Regions from separate parts of the Homo sapiens genome. Here region 2 is linked to region 1. Evidence: fine-mapped expression QTL. Tissue or cell type: whole blood. Region 1 holds a variant in brackets; the other region holds the start of a gene. All regions are shown on one strand. Distances are from middle to middle.

Region 1 (2,756 bases):
TCGGGAGGGAGAGGCAGGAGAATCGCTTGAACCCAGGAGGCGGAGGTTGCAGTGAGCTGAGATTAGGCCACTGTACTCCAGCCTGGGTGACGAAGCAAGACTCCATCTCCGAAAAAAAAAAAAAAAAAAGAAATTAGAATGGAGGTTACCAGGGGCTGGGAGGACCGCGGCAAATACAGAGTTATTGGTTAGAGGGTGTAGCGTTCATATTGGGAATTGTGATTGTTAATTTGATTTATCAGCTAGACCAGGCCACAGGATGCTGGGATATCTGGTTAAACATTATTTCTGGGCGTGTCTGTGAGGGTGTTTTTAGAAAGATCAGCATTTGAATCTAATGCTGAGTCGGGCAGGTTGGCCTTCCTAATGGAGGTGGGTATTCTGCTGAGGGCCAGGATGGGAGAAAAAGGTGGCAGAGCCACCACAGTGGCTCACGCCTGTAATCCCAGCACTTTGGGAGGCCAAGGCAGAAGGGCTGCTTGAGGCCAGGAGTTTGAGACCAGCCTGAGTAACATAGTGAGATCCCGTCTCTACAAAAAATTTAAAAATTACACGGGGCACTGTGGCTCACGCCTGTAATCCCAGCACTTTGGGAGGCTGAGGCTGAGGCGGGCAGATCACCTGAGGTGATCACCTGAGGGAGCTCAAGACCAGCCTGGCCAACATGATGAAACCCCGTCTCTACTAAAAAGTACAAAAAATCAGCCGGGTGTGTGGTGGGCACCTGTAATCTCAGCTACCCAGGAGGCTGAGGCAGGAGAATTGCTTGAGCCCAGGAGGTGGAGGCTGCAGTGAGCTGTGGTCATACCACTGCACTCCAGCCTGGGTACAGAGTGAGACTTTGTCTCAAAAAAAGGAAAAGGAGGGAAGGAAGGAAGGAAGGAAGGAAGGAAGGGAAAGAGAGAGAGGAAGGAAGGAATGAAGGAGAAAGAGAAAGAAAGGAAGGAAGGAAGGAAGGAAGGAAGGAAGGAAGGAAGGAAGGAAGAAAGCAAGCAAGCAAGCAAGCAAGCAAGCAAGCAAGCAAGCAAGCAAGCAAGCAGGCAAGCAAGCGGGGGCTCACGCCTGTAATCCCAGCACTTTGGGAGGCCGAGGCGGGCAGATCAAGAAGTCAGGAGATGGAGACCATCCTGGCTAACACAGTGAAACCTACGAAAAAAGCCGGGCATGGTGGCGGGCGCCTGTAGTCCCAGCTACTCGGGAGGCTGAGGCAGGAGAATGGCGTGAACCCGGGAGGCGGAGCTTGCAGTGAGCAGAGATCGCACCACTGCACTCCAGCCTGGGCGACAGAGCGAGACTCCATCTCAAAAAAAAAAAAAAGAAAGAGAGAGAGAGGAAGG[AAGGG/A]AGGAAGGAAGGAAGGAAGGAAGGAAGGAAGGAAGGAAGGAAGGAAGGGAAGGAGAAAAAGAAAGAAAGGAAGGAAGGAAGGAAGAAAGAAAGAGGTTTTAGTGTAGATAGTGGTGATGGTTACACAGCGGCCTCAATTTACTTTATAGTTATCTATTTGACACTAAATTTTTATTTATGGTATTAAGGTTTCTGGGCCAGGCACAGTGGCTCACATCTGTAATCCCAGCACTTTGAGAGACTGAGGTGGGCAGATCACCTGAGGTCGGGAGTTCGAGACCAGCCTGGCCAACATGGTGAAACACCGTCTCTACTAAAAATACAAAAATTAACCAGGCATGGTGGCGCACCCCTGTAATCCAGTTACTCAGGAGGCTGAAGCAGGAGAATCGCTTGAACCCGGGAGGCAGAGGTTGTGGTGAGCCGAGATCACGCCATTGCACTACAGCCTGGGCAACAAGAGCAAAACCCTGTCTCAAAAAAATAAAATAAAATAAAATAAAATAAGGTTTCTATTCTGAATACTTTTACTTACACACAAAAAGTCAGAGTTGATCCTGAGAAAAGGGGTAAGCCAATGAAGCCAGGTGGTGGAGGCATTCAGCAAAACTCACGAAGTTGAAACTACAGGAGTTGAAGTTTGCAGAGCACTCGTTTCCAGGGAATGTCTGCAGTGCACTCAGCAGGACGTCTCACTCCTCCCGTGTGCTCAGTAAGCCAAAGTTGATGTTATTATTTCCATCCCCAGCCCAACTATCCCACCAGTTCCATGATTTTCTGCAGTCCCAGTGGATAGCCCTGTGAGACTTACTGAAACAGAGGAGGGAAAGCAGCTTAGGGATCATGATGGCTCCTTAGCCCTCCCAGAGTCCGTCTTGGGTTCTGCAGTCCACAGATGGGAGAAGAGCTGGAGTCGTCGCTGCCTCTCTCCCACCCCAGAGTGTGGGCAGTAACAGCCTTTCCTAGCCTTTCAGTTTCCCCTCCCATATCCACATTCAGGAAACATGTTGATGTTGCTGATTGCAACATGCTCCTTACACACACCAGTGTTCGAGCACTTGACTCACAGGAAATGCTCCTCTGTCTCAGGCAGATTTCAGGCATCAAACAGGTAACCCCGAAAATGCTTCAGACTTGGCCCTGAAGGGTTCGTATTGAAGAGATGAAAGCACTTCACTCTTTTTTTTTTTTTTGAGATGGTGTCTGGTTCTGTTACCTGGGCTGGAGTCCAGTGGCACGATCTCAGGTCATTGCAACTTCAGCCTCCTGGGTTCAAGCAATTCTCCGGCCTCAGCCTCCCAAGTAGCTGGGATTATAGGCGCATGCCACCATGCCCGGCTAATGTTTGTATTTTTAGTTAAGATGAGGTTTCACAAGTTAGCTGGGCTAGTCTTGAACTCCTCGCCTCAAGTGAT
Region 2 (2,500 bases), 20 kb after region 1:
AGGAATGGAGGGAGGGAGGAAAATAAGGATATCTGGGATGGGATTGGGCACCAAAATAAAATCTGAGTAATTGGAAAAGGGGTGTCAGCAACAAAAGGAGAGTGGATGGGGTGGCTACTCACCAGACGGAGTGATGTCTGTGTGACACAGAGGCCCTGTAGGAGGTTGAGGGACTAGTTTCTTTTTCCTTTTTTTTTTTTTGTCTGAGGCAGAGTCTCACTCTGTCGCCCAGGCTGGAGTGTAGTGGTGTGATCTCAGCTCACTGCAACCTCTGCCTCCCAGGTTCAAGTGATTCTCCTGCCTCAGCCTCCGTAGTAGCTGGGACTACAAGTGCCCGCCACCACACCAGGCTAATCTTTGTATTTTTAGTAGAGAGGGGTTTCGCCATGTTGGTCAGGCTGGTCTTGAACTCCTGTCCTCAGGTGATCCACCCGCCTCGGCCTCCCAAAGTGCTGGGCCTCGGCTCCCACAGGCATGAGCCGCTGCGCCCAACAGCGAGTTCTTTTCAAAACCCTTTGTGGCCAGCCCCATCTCATTGGTAACCCAGGAATCTGAGTTCCCAGCTCCTATCTCCTCTGGGAAATGAGAATCTTATCCCTCCCTCCTCCTGTCTCAGTAGGCAGAAATTTGGACATCCATTGCCCACCTACCGAAGAAGTCTGAACGCAGACCCCTCTGGCCTGGGCAACCAAGAGTTCAGGCCCTTGAACTCCACCTTTCCAGGGAACAATGATCGTAGAGTTTCTCCTCTCACGAGTTCAGGAATCTGGGTCCCCATTTCCCTCTTCTCTCAGGAGCTAAGAGCCCTGTTCCCAGCCCCCTTTTCCCAGGGAATCAGGAGTCCTGGCTTCCATCCCCCTCCCATATAAGAATCTGGGAGTCCTCCCTGTCTCCTGACCTCTTCCTGCCTCAAGAACCAGAGATACCTGTCCCCACCTCCTTCCTCTTTCGGGAATCTGTGTTCTCTTGCTTTAGGACCCAGGGGTCTGGGCCCCAGCCCTGTTCTTTATTTGAACCTAGAATCCCAAACCTGCTGCCTGGTCCCCCTGCAGGGTGTCTGGGTCTCCATTGCCTCTCTCTCTGCCCCCAACCCCAGCCAGGAACCCAGGGAGAAGAAAGGGGTGACTCACAGAGGGTCAGCAGCTGGAGGATCAGCACCAGGGCCATGGTGGGCAGATACCCGCTAGAGCTGGAGCCAGGGCTTGGTCGCACCCTCTCCCCTCCCAGGAAATGAGGCAACATCAGAAAACCAGACCCAGATCCTCATTTACGGAAGAGAGTATCGAGGTGGGGGCCTGTGGGTGACTGTGTCATAGCCCTATGGCACTGTGGAAAAATTAGCAGGGGGTTCAGTCATAACCTGTGGTGTTCATTTATTTAACTCTAGAAACAAATACTAGTCAGGAGGTGGAGGCAGGAGGATCGCTTGAGCCCAAGAGTTCAAGAGCAGCCTGGGCAACAGAGCGAGACCCTGTCTAAAAAATAAATAAATAAATTGTGCCACTGCACTCCAGCCTGGGTGATAGAGTGAGACCATGTCTTTAAATATAGATAGACAGATAGAAAGATATCTGTCTGTTTTAAAAATAAGAACCTATTATGTGCCAGACTCTTGCTGTCATTGATTGACAGATAGATAAAAATTTGCACCTATTATGTGCCAGGCCCTTGCTGTGATTGAAAGATAGATAGATGGATGGATGGATAGATAGATAGATAGATAGATAGATAGATAGATAAAAATTAGCACCTGTTAAGTGCCAGGCCCTTGCTGTGATTGATTGATGGATAGATAAAAATTAACACCAATTATGTGCCAGGCCCTTGCTGTGATTAATTGATCGATTGATAGATTGGTTGACAGAGAAAAATTAGCACCTATTATGTGCCAGGCTCTTGGTGTGATACTGTGTTAGATAGATAGATAGATAAAAATTAGCCCCTCTAGGCCGGGCGCGGTTGTTCACGCCTGTAATCCCAGCACTTTGGGAGGCCAAGGCGGGTGGATCACCTGAGGTCGGGAAGTTCGAGACCAGCCTGACCAACATGGAGAAACCCCCGTCTCTCCTAAAAAAGAAAAATTAGCCGGCTGTGGAGGCGCGCGCCTGTAATCCCAGCTATTCAGGAGGCTGAGGCAGGAGAATCGCTTGAACTCGGGAGTCGGAGGTTGCTGTGAGCCGAGATCGCGCCATTGCACTCCAGCCTGGGCGACAGAGCTAGACTCAATCTCAGAAGAAAAAAAAAAAAATTAGAACCTATTACGTGCCAGACCCTCGCTGTGCCATGTTGGCAGGCACAGAGGGAACTCAGACTCCGTTACTGCTCTCAAGCAGCAGCTACCAGTCCGACTGAAAGACCAAGACCAGGTCAGTTTCTTTTTTTTTGAGACGGAGTCTCGCTCTGTCGCCCAGGCTGGAGTGCAGTGGTGTGATCTCGGCTCACTGCAAGCTCCGCCTCCCGGGTTCACGCCATTCTCCTGCCTTAGCCTCCCCAGTAGCTG

The links. PIP is the estimated chance that this variant, and not a neighbour inherited with it, causes the effect.
Region 2: OSCAR starts here. The variant in region 1 is fine-mapped to the expression of OSCAR in whole blood (INTERVAL, PIP 0.94).

The regions. Positions count from the first base shown.
Region 1 is chr19:54,079,155-54,081,910 of GRCh38, forward strand. It overlaps TARM1 (T cell-interacting, activating receptor on myeloid cells 1), which reads right to left and starts at 2,211. Exons shown (of 5, transcript NM_001135686.3): 1 at 2,153-2,211. The coding sequence starts at 2,186. The variant AAGGG/A (reference allele first, on the strand shown) is at 1,338.
Region 2 is chr19:54,099,626-54,102,125 of GRCh38, forward strand. OSCAR (osteoclast associated Ig-like receptor) reads right to left here and starts at 1,178. Exons shown (of 5, transcript NM_133169.6): 1 at 1,131-1,178; 2 at 123-155. The coding sequence starts at 1,167.